Regions from separate parts of the Homo sapiens genome. Here region 2 is linked to region 1. The links come from fine-mapping of genetic effects on gene expression. Tissue or cell type: lymphoblastoid cells. Region 1 holds a variant in brackets; the other region holds the start of a gene. All regions are shown on one strand. Distances are between the middles of the regions.

Evidence for each region. PIP is the estimated chance that this variant, and not a neighbour inherited with it, causes the effect.
Region 2: it holds the start of POU2AF3, and the variant in region 1 is fine-mapped to the expression of POU2AF3 in lymphoblastoid cells (CAP, PIP 0.95).

Annotation. Positions count from the first base shown.
Region 1 is chr11:111,416,217-111,424,320 of GRCh38, reverse strand. LOC100132078 (a long non-coding RNA gene) reads left to right here and starts at 6,135. Exons shown (of 4, transcript NR_046085.1): 1 at 6,135-7,956. It also overlaps a transcript of BTG4 not described here. RefSeq lists enhancers at 6,280-6,389, 7,440-7,509 and a silencer at 7,730-7,779. The variant C/A (reference allele first, on the strand shown) is at 4,564.
Region 2 is chr11:111,293,635-111,301,719 of GRCh38, reverse strand. It overlaps POU2AF3 (POU class 2 homeobox associating factor 3), which reads right to left and starts at 3,174. Exons shown (of 5, transcript NM_001271458.2): 1 at 3,132-3,174; 2 at 1,099-1,193. The coding sequence starts at 3,138. COLCA1 (colorectal cancer associated 1) reads left to right here. Exons shown (of 2, transcript NR_169237.1): 2 at 3,054-8,085. RefSeq lists a silencer at 2,035-2,234.

The sequences.
Region 1 (8,104 bases):
GTAAGTCATCCAGCTCTAGAGCCCAGGCTAGTTTCCTTGCTTTCCTTGCCCTTGCTGCTTCCCAAATTGAGCATCATCTATCCGTGTCACTCTCAGTATCCTGGGGCACTGGATTGTATCGACTTGGGCTGTGGATGGGAGATGCCCTAAAGATGAACCTGTGAGGGCCTTTAGTGTTTCTCTAGCTAAGAGCTCTCTGAAGAACATGTTTCTTGCGATGGGCAGGATGGGAGAGGCTGGTCAAGCCTCTGAGCCTGTGCTCATTTCCCTTCACCTATTTTGCTCCTCCATGAGGCTTCTGTCACCACTGGTGGTGGTGGTTCTAAGGCTGTGGTGACCTGGGGAGGGTCTCTGTGGTGACTTAGCACCTGGGGAGGGAGAGGTCTGGCTTTCTCGGCCTCCTCTTCTGGCAGGGCCCTGAAAGGAGCTCAGGCCTCGGAGATTTCCTGGTTCCAATGTCCTTTCGTCTTAACAGTCCTCAGCTCACAGCTCCTCCAGAAAGTGGTCTTTATGTGTAAGGAGCTGAGTTTTCATCCTGGCATGTCTCTCATCTTTCTATGCCTTAATTTCCTCATCTGATGGTGATATCTATTTTTTGAGGGTGGTGGCATTGTTTTTGTGTATTAAATGAATGTCATATACTTTGAGAACCAAGCATGTTATATTATTATTTATTGTCATTGATATCGACAGGTCCTTTGGAAGTTGTCAGCTTGGGCTCAGCTGCCTGTGGTGTAAGGGTGGGCAAGGTGTCTAAGAATTCCTTTGGGGAGGGGTAGGCCAGCTCTCTGGGAGGTAGTTAGTAGGAATGCTTAACTGAATGGTTTGGTGCACATGATGCTTTGAGATCGGTGCAGTGGGGACCTTGGAACACATGCCATTAGTCTGGCCCAGGCTGGGCTAAGGGCCTGTCCTGGGAGTTATTTCAAGTTTTGACAATGGAGATATGGCACTGATGTAAAAGGATTTGATTCTTAGGATCTTCCAGATAATGCTGCCCTTATTTGGGAGCAGTGGATTGGGGGAGAGTTGGAAGATGTTCCCAGAATCTAATTTCTAGGGGAGAGAGTGCCTCATTCGGTCTCCCGGGCCCGCCACCACAGCGAGCTCTCAGTAGGGGGAGCTCTGTCACTGCGGTGGCCCTTCTTGCTGACTCGGGGTGGAGGGGCTATCTAGGCACCTGAGGAAGGCTTAGGAGTGGCCAACAGGGGTCTCTTCTGCAGGAGGAACCTGAGGTGTCTGCTGAGGAGCAGCCAGGTCAGGAGTCACTGGCTACAGGGTCCCCACCTGGAAAAGAAATGGAAATGCACTGTGTCCAGTGCATGGGGGAGAAAATGCACCAATGTCCTGACACAGGGAGTCTCACTAAGGTGGGGGAAAACAGAGAGGTGTGCAGCCTTACTAAGACCAAAGCTGCCACAGCACCTGCTTTATAGTCTATAGAATCCAAAACTGCCCTCCCTCTCCACCCACAGCTGCTTTTGGGGATTGGCTGCCAGCTGGGGATGGGGGAGGCCAAGACAGAACTTGGAGTTCCTGAGTGTGTCCTATGGGTGTCTCGTGTCCATTCTTATTGAGCAGGGGAGGGACCTTGTCCTGTTTCTGGCCTCGGGAGTCACCCTGTCCTGTCCCTGGCTGATCCTCTGCACCTGAGGCACAAAGGTTCTATATAGGAGTGTTTCCACGTGGTGATTCAGGTTAACTGTCTTCCTGTGCACTTGATGCCCAGGCTCGGTCTGGGAAGAGAGGACAAAAAGGTCAAAGGACACATCCTTCTATTCCAGCCTGCGCTTGGTGGCCATGTGAGCATTAGGGCGATGAAGGCCTGTGTGCACATGCATTTCCAGGACTCTTGGGGTGGCAGGGTGGGGTGAGCACTGTGAATGTCCATCTTGAGTGTCCAGCAGGAGGGCACCTGGGTGGTCTCAGAGGCCACGTACAGCAGCCATTTCTCATGAGCATGAGAGGAAGTCCAGCAGAAGTGTGTCAGTGTGGTCTTTTTCAGAACCACTCTGCCCTTACTGGGGACCTCTATGATCAATTTTTGTGCCTTGAATATTTAGGTTGAGATTGAGCTTGGTGCACGGTTGGCTCAGAGCTGGAGGAACGATTTGCTGGGGCTCCCTTGTGAAGGTCGCTGAGACCAGAAGACCCTCCCCTGCATCCTTTTGTTTTGGGATAAAAAAACAGACTGGCTTGAAGCAGTTTAGGAGAATCCTATTGGAATGATAGATTAGAGATTCTCTCTTGGTGCATAGAGAAGGGACTGTTTTCCTGAGTTTCAGAGATAGGGAGAGGTTGACTTGCTCTCCAGCAACTTCTGGGCCCTTTTGATTCCCGTGAGCTTGGTCTCAATGGTATCACGAAAAATTGCTGTGACCTGCCATGCCTTCTGCCTTTTTTTTTGTCTGATGGAGTCTCACTCTGTTGCCCAGGCTGGAGTGCAGTGGCATGATCTTGGCTCACTGCAACCTCTGCTGCCCTGGTTCAAGCGATTCTCTTGCCTCAGCCTCCTGAGTAGCTGGGATTGCAGGCCCCTGTCACCATGCCTGGCTAATTTTTGTATTTTTAGTAGAGATGGGGTTTCACCCTCTTGACCAGGCTGGTCTTGAACTCCTGACCTTGTGATCTACCTGCCTCAGCCTCCCAAAGTGCTGGGATTACAGGTGTGAGCCACCACGCCCAGCCGCCTTCTACTTTTTGTAAGCCTTAGTTTATAGTGTTGCTGGGGAAGTTAGCCCCATTTTCTCTTTCCTGCAAGCTGGGCAGGTCTATGCCTCTAAGGTGCAGACATCAGTTAATTGGTAGCCAGATGGGAGCCCACAGGGACATCCTGCCCTTCGGGAAACACACGTGCAAACCTAAATTTTGTCTTTGCAAATCGGTTGACTAGCTGTGCTTGCTAGAAGCAAAGTAGCTCTCATGAATTATCCAGTTTGGAGTTTTTCAGATCATGATGAACTCAGACACAAAGCCAGGTCTCCTCCTTTGTATGGAGGCAACATTAGGTAAAGGGGAGGGCTGAATGCTCAGGTCAGCATAGCTAATTATGCCATCTCATCCTCCCCCAAGCCCTTCTATGGCTCTGGCTGCTCTTAGAGATAAAAACCCTTTAGATAGTCTACGAGGCCCTATATGAGGTGCCCTCTCTGAGAGCTAGGCTCTTGAGATCCATTGCACACCAATCTCTGGACTCCAGCCACTTGGGACCTTGGTTCCTTGATTCTGTCACGCTCTCTCCAGCCTTAAGGCCTTTGCATAAGTTACTCCTTTTTCCTGGCATGTTCTTTCCCATCCCTATCCCATCCTTTTTTCTAGGTAATTTACTCTCACCTTTTAGGGACTAGCCTAGGTGTCCCTTTCCCAAAGGAGCCTTCTGGGACCTCCAAGATTGTGTTCCATCATGTACTCTCAAAGTCCTTGGTAGCACTTATTACAATTATTAGTGTTTTGAATTGTATAATTGATTCATTTTTCTCTGCTAGAATGTAAGCTTCATGAGGGTAAGGCCTGTTAGTTTATTTTTTTATCCTGTCAACCACTCAGCATAATGCTTGGCACAAATTAGGTGCTCAATAAAAATGTGTTGAATGAATGCATGAATGAACGGGGTCACCAGGTTGCTACTGCAATCCCTCTGGCATTCTACTAGACAAACTGTGTCTCAAACTGTTGAATGCTGTTTCTTGTTCTTACCCATTACAGGGGAGAACCACAGGTGGGCAAAGTAGCTCTACATACAGCTCCTGTGACTTTTGAGGCTTAACTCTTGTGAGATGATCATGGTCTCATCTCCCCCTGTTTTATCTCCCCCAGAGTCTCTGCTAAGGCAGAGTCCACACCCTACCATGCCCACTGCCTTCTTCCTCCTGATCCTTGGTCTTTTGGTCTTTGTGTAAAAAATGTGGCTTTCTCCAGGCAAAGCCCAGAATGCCACCTGGTCCAAGGAGGATTGTTGGCTATGATCTCCTCAGTTTCACTTCCAGAGCTGGCTGCTCAGATTGGTCTACCCTGCTGTGGATGCAATTTCAGGATGAGGTTGAAGAGCAGGTCATCTGGACTGCTGGGATGATTTTAAAGGAAACTTTAATATCTCCTGGACAAGCCAGCAGCTGGTGTCTGCAAGTCCTCCAGGACTTTGCACCTTGAGACTTGGATTCAGGGGCAGCTGAGAAGATAGACTGTGAACTTTCCTTTGCCGAGAGAACTGGACTACAGCTTAATGGCTGGACCCTAGGCATCTCTAGGACACTACAGTTGTCCATTGTAGATTCCTTTACCTCAAGCCACTTCTGGACCTGCCTGTCCTTGGGTGCCTGGTGCTGAGTCAGCAACACCTCCCTCCTGTCTTGGCAATGTGTGGCCAAACTAAGCCAAGTCTGATTATAATGGGTTGGTTCATCTAGAAGCTCACATCCCGTACTCTTTTTCCAATATGGCACTTAGCCAACTGGCACCCAATAGTGAAGAGTGACTCTGGGAACTGAGGCTGCTGAGGACTCATGACCCTGCAGAAGCCAACAGCAAAAGCTGTGTGGAGGGTGAAGCCATCCCGCTGCCAGG[C/A]CTCTCTCTCTGCTCCATGTCAGTTCCTGTCTGGCAGCGCCATGGCCTTGGCTGGCAGTCAGAGACCCGCTGCTGGTACTTGCTGGTGGCTTGGCTCTCTTCCATCTAGCCAGGGCATTTGGACCTTTTTTCTATGTTCTGCTTATGAGCTTGGGAAGCGAGCCAGTGGTTCTCCTTGGAAGTTGCCTCCATCCTTGTCATTTCCCACCCTAGTCCCAAGGGAGACATGTTTCTTTCTCTCTTCCGTATTGACACCTTCTCTTGCCTTTGGCTCAAATACAGACACCTCAGGTAGCACCAGTGCTGTGGGGAGGCCAAGGGGCGAGGGGCACGTACAGGAAGTGGTGGTGGCAAAATAGAGTTAAGTTCGGTTACCAGTGCTGGATGAAGCTTTGTATCTCTAGGGTTGTCAGTCAGCCAAGAAGGAAGGCAGTTACAGGCCTAATTCTTGGTTCCTGAACTGATTGGCTGTAGCTTTTATCAGGGACTCACTGGCACTTCTCTGAGCATCAGTGTTAACTTCTGTCATGGGCTGAATTGTGCAGCCTCCTTCTTCTCCTCCAAGTTTATAGGTTGACTTCCTAATCCCCAGTACCTCAGGATATGACTCTATTTGGAGATAAGGTCTTTAAGGAGGTTATTTAGGTAAAATGAGGTCATATGAGTAGGCCCTAATCCAATATGACTGGTGTCCTTATGAGAAGAGATTAGGACACAGATAGGTATAGAGGGAAGACCATATGAAGACAAAGAGAGAAGGCGGCCATCTGGAAGCCAAGGAGAGGAGCTCCCAGAAGAAACAACCCCGCTGACACCTTGACCTTGGACTTGCAGTCTCCACAATGGTGAGGAAGTAAATTTCTGTTCTTTAAGCCATCCAGTCAGTACTTTGTTTTGGCAGCCCTAGTGAACTAAAACAAACTCCTGCAGACGTGGCAGAGAGGGTTTGCAGAAGGGCCAAGAGAACGGTGGCTTAGATGCTTCCGGTTTTCCCAGCTTCTTCATGGACTCTCAAGGTTGGTGGTATCCCTTTGGCTTCTCTAGTTCTTTCTGCTTCAGGGAGCTACCAACCTCCTCTGGTTTTGGTGGTTAGCCTAAGTAGCTAGTAAATAGAGTGTTTCTACTCTTAATCTTATTTCCCCTTTATGAAAACCTTATGATAGGCGCTGCAGAATCTCCATGTCACCCAGCATCGTTGGTCCCGCCCTCTGGAAGCTCACATTCTATGCGGAAGACAGACATGAGGATCACTTCACTGCAGCATAGGAGGTGCTGTGATAGTGCTCAGCAGGGGGCATGAACTAAGGAGGACACCTTGAGCCCACCTGAAGAAGAAGGTCACAGAATGCTTTGTGATGATGATGGCCAAGCCTAAAGTCTGTCAGTTCTTTGAGGACAGAGGCTGGGTCTTTCTCACCTTCCTTCACCCATGGCATCTAGCACAGCACTTTGCACATAATAAGTGCTCATCTAATGTGTTGGGCGAATGGCTCTCTTAAAGTCCCTTCCAGCTTCATGATGCCATAATTCTGTGGCCTCAGAGGTCCCACAGCAGTCAGATGGCTTAAGGTGCTGCTGGCAGACGGCGTGAAGGTGAACAGACATGGGGTTTTATGATATGCAAAATCACTCATGAACAACTAAACTGGAAACCAGGGAGGAGAGCATAATGAGCTTCCCTTCTTAGCTTAGATTTCTAGGAGAATCCTCAGGCATAACAACAGGAACACAGCCAGTGCAGCTGCCCCACGTGGATGATCAGAGGCGACGTCTTACTCTCCACAAAGCCAAGTTTGGTCAAGCTCCTCACAGCTGTTTCCCACAGAGAGGAAATCCCCTAAGTTCCCAGGCAGTGTAAACTGACCGTGTGTTTATAAAATAGACGCCATGCCCCAAGAACATGAAAACAGTCCAGATGCATGAACCTGCAATGCAGCAGTGATTCAAGACACTTGGGAGTAGGGAGGAGAGCGTGAGTGAGAGAACGCTTCAATGCCGAAGCAGAGTGGCTGTTCTCTGGAGAACACCCAAACTGATCTAAAGCCAAAGTTCAAAAAATAACAAACATGCAAGCCTTTTGAAAACAAATTGTGCCTAGATATCTTTGCAAGCTGAGTGGTCAGCCCTCAGACAGTGCTATGAGGGAGTGATTGCAGACCACCCAGCACCCAAGGAATTAGGGGCAGTTCATGCTGTCCCTGTGTCCAAGGGCTCCGAGAGCTCAGATTAAAATTCTTTCTGCCCAGCTTTTGCAAGATGGAACCAAAAGAGCCCACTTGTGAGAAGGCAGGGGATTGAGGAGGGTCCCCTCCTCCCAGTACGGACTGTGTGGTGCCTTCAGATGAGCTGTTTTGTTTCACGCTGAGCTGAGCTCACCTAGGCGATGACCTTGTGACAAGAATACCAGGCTGAGTCCAGATCAGCAAAGAGGGGACAGGAAGAGGAAGAGGAAGAGAGAAGCAAGTGCAGCCATGCGAAGCTGTGACTGACAGAAGCCAAGTCAGAACTGCTGGTTAACATAATTTTTAATCCTTCATCAGGGCTGGTAAAATGTTGACAAAGGAGAGTCCTTGTAGTGAATCTCTCAGTCTATTAAGAAAGCTGTTTCAGACCCAGGGACATAAGGCAGGTGTATTGGAGTCATCAGACTCTCTACAAAATATTAGTCATCAGCTCTGCAAAAACCCCGTGGGCTGCACTGGGGCGTGAGTCCCTCAAAGTTTAACTAAACATGGCAAACTGGATGTACACAGACAACCTTAATAGCTTCTGGGGATTCTGGAAAGAGCTGGGGACCGGCTCCCTTAAAAATCTACTCTAAGAAAATTCACCGCAGGCCCAGCGTGGCTCCTGACCTGGAGGATAACAATGATAATGGAAGTGCTGTTAAAAGTAAGAATGACTATGAGTTATTGAGTTTTTCATCTGCTCAGGCACCGTGCTGGGCCTACACAGTATCTCATTCAGTCCTACTAAGGACCATTACTGTCCCTTTCCTACCTAGGGGAAAAGGAGATTGAGAGAAGTCAAACCGCTTTCTCACGGTGACAGGGTAGGCGGTGGAGCCAGAATACAAATGCAGGGGCTCCAGCCTCAAAGCCCGTGCTCTCTGCTCACATTGGCCCACCCAGGACAGACGCTGTCGGGATGTCCTGGGGGTTTCACACTGTTAAGAAATAATAACGAGTGAGAGCCAAGGTGTACTCTGGATCTACCTGAAGCACCCAACTCACTCCCTTCCATGATGTGACTAACGGCGTTTCAGATCTGTTTGTGCTCCGACCTGACCTCAGGAAGCCAAAGTCCCCTGAGGTCTGGGGTGTGTATGCTTGGGGACCCGAAATTAGAGGCACACCTACCTAGGATTGAATGTAACGATCTAATCAAGAAAAGGTGTGTGTGTGTGAGCCAGAGTGAGAAAACGAGAGAGGGAGAGAGAGAGAAAGAGAGGGAGAGAGAGGAAGAGAGGCCCAGTTTGTTTTCCAGGGGACAGAAAAGGAACTGATGAAGGCCCTGAAAATTCAGTCCAGGCAACTCCATC
Region 2 (8,085 bases), 120 kb after region 1:
TCCTATCATCCCCAATTTGAAGACGAATAAACAGAGGCAAGAGGAATTGGGTAATTTGCTTGAGGATACACACCATGGAGGAACTGAGATCTGAGCCCAGTCCATCTGGTTCTGGAACCTGTGTTTACCTCCCCTACATCATTTGCCCCCTCCCATTTCAAGAAGTCCCGCTGTCAAAGGCCTATTTCATGAAGTCACACATTGCACATGAACAGCATCAGGCACAAAAACTGTTGTGGGGCAGATGCCAATGGGCTGGAGAAGGACCAATCCTAACAGAGGCAATATGAGCCCCAGCTGTCAGATCCTATGTTCACACCCAAACCAACCCCCAAGCAATTGTATGATTGAGGCTTTTTAGGGATGAGCTGCCCTCTCTTGGGCAATAACCCCACCTAGTTTATTTGGTTCTGTTGCTGCCCTGAGTGCCTTTGGCAGTACTTACCGTAGGAAGGTGTATAAAGTGTCAGGGTATACCCTTATGACTGCTCAGTTCAATTTTGTAATAACCTGAAACTGCTTAAGGTGTTGATACATTTTAGGGAAGTGGTCCTGTACTCCAGCTGTCTCTTCTGCAGAGACAGGGCCCTTTTCTGCTAGATACTTTAGGTAACTGATGATTTACAGATAAATGATCTCAGAGGGTGAGTTCCAGAAGAATGAGGAGGGAAGGGAGGATGTTCCACACAGATGCTATCCTGGAAGGGGCCCCTAAAATGAGGTGAATTTCTGGGAGAGATTTTCTATGGGTCTGCAAGGGCTGTACATATATCCACTGTCTTCCTAACAAAACGATGTATACTTACCTGCTGGCCGCTCCTCCCCCTGCAGAGGACCAACGCACTTTTTATACTTTACTTTCACCCATGGGGGATGGATGGGCTCCCCCAAATCCTGAGCCCCACAACATGCCCCAGCTGTCCTCTGTAGCTTCCCGATTGGGATGCAGCTGGGTACAGAAGTCATAGGAACAGCAGAGGAAGGCCAGGTCTGGGAATGGTGAGTGCGTGGGGCCTTGAGTGGCCTCCACACCTTGCAGACACAGCTTTGAAAGAGGCCTGGCATGGGCTGGGGAATGAGGGAAGGGCTTATGCTTACGGTTCCCCCGGAGGCCGCCTGGTGTGCCCGTCTTTGCTGCAGCAGCTCCTTCACTGTGATCTTCACTCGGACACCTTGATACACCTTCGGTTTTTCTGGAGAAAGGCAACTGAGTCAGTGGTCGAGTCCAAGGTCTGGGTGCCAGGGTGCAGAGTGGGGGCCCCTTTTATAGGCTATGGCACCCAAAGCCAAGTTTCTAAGTTCGGAGAACACACACAAAAAATGTCAAAGGATGGTAAAAACCCAAACATTTCAAACTTGAAAGAATGAAGAGTAGCTGAGCAGGTTTCAGAGCCCCAGTAGGAAAAGAATCCGTGGAAATTTGTGGGGCCATCCACCCCTGGCTGGGCCTCAGTCCTAGGCCAATAGCAAACGGGTTTTTCTGCTCTGGAATATGGAGACCAGTGCAGCGGAGCCCACCACTCTGATTAGGTCGGGGGAACCTTGGCTTTCAGACCCAGACAGCCGAGAGAGAGGGTATTATGGACCTGGGGAGGGGCCAGGCCTGGGGCAGGGGGCTTTCTCTGATTATGGCGGCTGACGTAGCCCACCCCACTGTGATGTTCCCACTAGCATGGAAGTCCCGAGTCCCTTCCTTCTCCGCCTGGCCAGGTGTGGCTTCTGGGCAGGCTCCGACCTCTGCGTGCCCTTGGTCTGGAAGCCAGCCCGGGAGCAAGCGGTGAGGTTTGGCCAGCCCCGTCCTGGGCCGGCGAGGTACCTGCCAGACTGACCTAGTAAAGGGGCCAGGCCCGAGGAACTCCCTCCCTCGCTCCCTTCTGTCTTTGCCTTCTGCCCGCTCTCCCTCGTCCCTTTTCTCCGCCTTTTCCGCGCTCCATCTTGCCCTCCTCCCTCCTTCGCCCCCGCTCCTACTCTCCCCTTCTTCCCCTCTCTCCCTACCCCCTCCCTTTCTGGGGCAGGCGTTTCTCCGAGGCGCACTGAGGCTCCGGGGCGAGTCCGCGCAGCGCGAGCTGGGGAAAGCCGTCCGGGGCTCCCGATGACCCTGCACTCCGCCGGGAGGCCGCCCTTCGGTAGGGGCCGCCCCGGGGCTGGCGGGGCCCGGTCGGACTGCCCCGGCTCGCGGGAGGTGGCGGGCGCGCTCAAGAGGGGTTCGCTGGGAGGGACCCCTGAGCGCTGGGAGCAGGGGCAGCCTCAGCCCCGGGCCCCGAAAAGCCGCAGTGAGTAGGTTGGGGACTGGCTGTTAGGCCAAGCCGAGCCGGGCGAGCTTTCAAGGTGGAGGTGGCCGCAGGAGTCCGGGGCGGCTCCGGCCCTGACCACTACCCTGCAGTGTGCGTCCAGGAATCGCGCCGGGAAGTGCGCTGGGTGCGGCGGCCGAGGGTGACCGCGCGTTCAGCCTGGACGCCTGGAGATAGTGCCAGGATGCCAGCGCCTCGCCTGGTCACTGCGGGGACCGCAGCTGGACAGCAGGGATCCCCCTCAAGCCGGGTTCCAGGAGTTAGGGTCTCCCCAGGAAAGGAGATTGCGCTCTTCCTAGCCCGGACCCAGGGAATCCCGTGCCCCGCCCGCAGGGCCCAGGCGCCGCGCCCTCTCCGCGCTCCAGCCTACCGCAGCCCCACCACCCCGTTCCCCGATCGGCTCCGGACTCCGCGGGCAGCGGGCGCCCCTCGGGGTCCGCGCAGGGACCGCCACAGCTCGGCTCAGTGCAGTCGGTGCGCTCTGCCCCCGTCCCAGGCTCACTGTGAGCCTCTAGCTCCCCCCGTAGCAGCTTCTGGGCGCGCAGGGTCCGCACCGCGTGTCTCAGGACACAACAGTGGATACGTGGGAGGGCGGGCGGGGGCCTGGGGTACGCGGACGTCCGGAGCGGCCAACTCGGCCTCTGGGCCTCTGCCCTCCGGGACAGGCGCTGAGTGGGAGCGGCCACAGCGTGGCTCGCGTCCTCTCCGGATCCCCGGCCCTTACTCGCATGCCTTGACTTTGTGCCTCTCTGTTCTATGCAGGAAAAGCCGTGGAAACACACCCGGATTGAAATGCCCCTGGCCCGCCTGACCCGACCCTAGGAGAAGCAGCCGAGTTACCCGACATCGTGGTCAGCAGGAGCTGGGTCGGTGGCTGGATGCTGCAGCAGCAGGGACTCAGCGCCTGGGAGGGCTCCTGGGGCAGGGAGAGAAGCAGAGATGCAACATTTTTAAAATTTCACAAAGCATCCGGCTGCACCCAGGTCCCTGGAACAGGAGACAAACAGAATTAATGTTTTATACCTTCGGGTATAGGTTTGAGTTTTTTCCCCCTCATGCCAAGTATTTAAAACCTCTAGAAACCCATGATTTGACAATCAATGATTGCGCGATACTTTCAATTTGAATATTCAAAGGCTTAACAAAATGGACTATCTTCTGCAGAAATCCTGCACACAGGCACCCCACAGAGAGTCCAGAGAAACAGGGAGTGAGACCCCTTTGGGTCCTGGCCCTTGCTTTTATTATAGTTTGAGCATTTTGTCCTCCTTCCCACAGATAGAGCAGATGTCCTCAAAGATGCTCTGTATTTCAGCCTTCAGGGCAGCTAAGAAGCCATGAGTGACTTAGGCTGCCCTGGCCATGAACACCGGAGCCAGACTGGCTGGCCAGACTGATTCCCGCATCCCCCATCTGTGTTTTGAGGGGAAATCTCAGGTTTTGAGGAATGAACATGGCAGCTAGTGGGTGTGGCACAGCAAGAAGTCGCTCTGGGCCCAGGTGGCAGGCCAGCGGCCTAGCAGAGGCCTTCGCTCTGCACCTCCTATTTTTCTGGCTCCGCCTGGCTACCAGCGGGCTTCCCTCCCCCTTTCATCCCGCTCTTCCTGGGCCCGACACTGGGGTTTCTGCTCAGAATGACTGCCCATTAAGACCCTTTCCTCCTCCCCACAGAGCTGGGGATGCCAGGAGCCTCATCCTCTGGAGACTTTCTGACTCTGGGTTTCACCACCGCACTGCGAAGTGCCCTCTTTGCTTTTTCGCCTTCTAGAGCCACCCCTGCCTTTTTGCTGTAGGAGCACATGTTAGGAAACAATGACAAGTTTGGCTCCTGCTCATTTTAACTGAAAGGATGTGGACTTAGGTTCAAGCCTTCTCCCATTGGGGTGAGAAGGGGGAGGGACTTGGGATCAGGCTTCCCCCTTGGTCCAGGCCCAAGCCCCTCACTAATGACTTGGGATTCTACTGGGTCATCTTCTGTGAGTACTTACTGTGCCTCTTCCATGTGATTTGGAAGGTGAGGAGACAGGAATGGTCCACAGAGGGAGAGAGTGCCAGGCCAAGTCCTCTCATAGCCACCCGCCCCCTCCACAGAAGGGGACAGCAAGAGAAGAGAGAGGCATGGTGAGGTTCCTTTTGCAAATAACCAAGATATTTCCAGGATTCAAGACCAGTCCATGGTTTTAGGCCTCTGCTGTTTATTCTCTGAGTTCTCAGAAATGCAAAAAGTGTAGTTTAGCCCCAGAGGCCTCAAGAAAAAGATTGGGGTGCCCCCAAATGTGTCAAATACAGAGGGAAACACACAGAGCTTAGGGAAAGGGCAACTGAGAATGACAAGACTGATAGGAATTGCTTGGCAGCTGAAGCCACATCTCTGGGGGAGAGGAGCAGGCCTGGGAACACCTGAGGTGGCACCTGGCAGTGGAGGGCAGGATGGATGTATTGAAATCTGACAGCTTCTGGAACTTCTTTCTACAAATGCCCCTGAGCCTGTGTCCTAGGTTTCCCTGATGGACCAGACCTGAGGAGGGGAAGGACAATGGGGGTGGAGATGGCACCTCCCCTCCCTGCATGCCTTCTTCCTCGCTGTGCCTAGGCCTTGCCCCCTCTGAAGGAACAGTGAACCAAGCAGCTTGGAATCTAGGGATGGTCTCTTGTCCTCATAGCGTCTTCCATTACTTCTTTTCTTCGCTGCTCTCCTCCTTTTTGTTATACTCTTATTTTTTGATTTGCTTTTAAAAACCTTCTTTGTTGCATTTTTGTTTATTTCTTTCTGTGTTTCTTTGTCTCTCTTCCTGTCATTGCTTTCTTCCATTTCTTATCTGTACTACTGGTTTTCTCCCTGGCTTCACGTGTCTCTGTGTTCCCCTATGCTGGGGTGTCCTCCCAGTGCTTTCAGGCTTCATCTCCTTCCTAACCTCTCCTTTCTATTTTTTTTTTTTTTTTTTTTGAGATGGAGTCTTGCTCAGTCGCCCAGGCTGGAGTGCTAACCTCTCCTTTCATGTGGAGATGGACAGGGATGGCAGGAGCACTGAGTGCTCTTGACAACACCATTGAAGATGATGCTGACGATCAGCTACCCTGTGGAGAAGGCAGGCCAGGCTGGGTGAGAGGGGAGCTCCTTGGAAGTCAGGGGGTCTGTAAGGACAGCAAGGATCTCTTTGTCCCAACCTCCAGCAGCCTTTATGGGTGCTTCTGTGTTGGCCTTGTTTCTGGGATGGCCATCTCAGTGCTGTTGCTGGCTAGCGATTTCAGAAAACTAGATTTTTCTAGGCCTGAGCCCTGTTTTGAGAAAGAAGCTTCCCTCTGGTTTGTAGCTCAACATTAATGAGTTTTGGTTCCTGTTGTTTCTATAATTACAAAACCCCAGCACAGGTATTTAAGAGCCAAAGGCCATGCTTGTGGAAGTAAGGGAGGATCTTTCTAAATGGATCCTGCAAATCCTCCTTACAGATCTGAGTGGATGATCAGGCCCAGAGCAACCCTGAGACCCCAGGTACCCACAGCATTGGCTGTTCTTCATAGGAGACTCAGAGAAGACTTCATAGGAGACTCATTATTGTTTACTGGACATCAGGTGCTATATTGTATAGCATTCACATTCCACAGGTGAGGAAACAGGCTCAGAGGAATAAGTGGCATGCCAAGATCACTGAGTATATCAGTAGCAGAATTAGGATTCAGACTTTGTTAGGCCTAACTCCAAAGCCCTGGCTTTTTTTTTTTTTGAGATGGAATCTTACTCTGTCACCGGGCTGGAGTGCAGTGGCATGATCTCAGCTCACTGCAATCTCTGCCTCCTGGGTTCAAGTGATTCCCCTGCCTTAGCCTCCTGAGTAGCTGGGACTACAGGCATGCACCACCACGCCCAGCTAATTTTTGTGTTTTTAGTAGAGAGGAGGTTTCACCGTGTTGGCCAGGATGGTCTCAATCTCTTGACCTTGTGATCTGCCTGCCTCGGCCTCCCAAAGTACTGGGATTATAGGCATGAGCCACCATGCCCGGCCTTTGCTCTTAACTACTGATGTTGTCTTCCTGATCTTTTCTACAAGAAGCTTTTAAACTTTTTGGACTTTAACCTACAATAAGAAATCCATTTTACATGTTCACATGTATCTATAACAACATTTATATTTCTAAAACAAACTTTTCATGAAACAAGATATACCTACATATGTCAGGCACTCTGATATTTTCTATTCTAGTCCACCTTTTCCATTTCATTCTATTTATGGGAAATATATGTTGGTTGGGAGTCACTGAGTTAATTTAATGACCCACTAATAGGCTGTGAGTGGCATTGGAAAAATACCTGCTTGTAAGATATGCGAACACACGTTTCAAGGTTGTTTGTGCATGTGGAAATATTTTGGGGTGCTATCTGTTTTACCATCAGTTTGTACAAGGACACTAAGACAGTGTAGCCTGCTGACTTGAGAATGTTCTGTAAGGACTGGAAACACTAGAATCTTGAAGAAACGCCTGGCTAGAGGTGAGGGTAAGCTGTTAATTACACTGATTACAGTTTGTGCCTCTCAGACTGAGAACTCTTTTCTTCTTGCTGGGGGCATTGCTATCTCTAGGATGTTTGCCCTGAAGTCCTGATAGTCTCTTTGGGGTTTTAATAAATGGCTGAAAAAATTGTTGTGGGGTTTCAACAGGCGTTCATAGGCACCCTTGCTTGGCAATATAACATGGCTTTTGATGTTTGGGTGTTGGAAGGGATCTTTGAAGTGCTGAGAGGGACTCAGTCTTTTTCCAAAATCTCTGCTTGTGTCTGTCCAGCCTCTGGCTCCACTGCTTGGCTGAGATCCTGGCCCATAGTAGAATCTGTGTAGAGGAAACGAGAGCTCACTATTTGTGAGGCAGCCTGTTCCACTATTGGACTGCTTTAAATGTAGTGATCAGTGATTATGCTATAATCCAATCATGTATTAATTGGGCACCAACTATGCACTAGGCATGGTATCAAGTACCAGGAGTACAAAAATAAGTAAACCTTGATTTCTGCTATCAATTACTCTCTTCTCCTACTTCTGTACTACTGCTTTTCTATTGTGAGTTTGTTTAGTTCATTAATTGGTTTATTCATTCATTCAACAATCATATACTGATTAGCTACTCTGACCAGGTCCAGTACTAACTCTGAAGAAGTTATGCCCATCCCATCTTCACCCCAAGCCTTCTCCTTTTGAGACTCCTCATCCAGTTTCTTTAGTTCTTCATATATCACTGTTTTTCAGATCTCTGGCTATCCTTGCCATTGACCTCAGAAATCCTGTATTTGACCTTAACCTTCTTATACCCAGTCCATACCCAAAGTGATGGAAATGGAATAGATTTCTTTTTAAAGTTTTAAACGAATATTTTGACTGAAAAATTTTGGCAGTCTTGTATGCAAATGACACTGCAGAGCATTGTTTTCTCCCCCCCACGTAGGAGATTTTATTCAACTAAGGCACAGGCATATTAAAAGACTTTCAGTATAAGGAAAAGGGGTAGTTTATTCCCTCCAAATTTGACTACAGCTCGAAATTGTCTTTATTAATGCAAAGTTCTTTTGTCACCTTGACTTTGGGACACTGTTACCAAACCTCGTGGGAAATATCAAGTTCCAGAAGATTGAATACATGCAGGAAACAAATGTTTTTTGGGCCCTAGAGTGAACATTTGGTCCATATGAAAATGACCAGGAAGACAATTAGGTGAAGGTTTTTTAATGATTTGTGCTACGTCAGTCTCTTCCCATAAGACATATTCAAAGTTTTAACTTTTCCTTAAGAGGCTTCCATGGGGA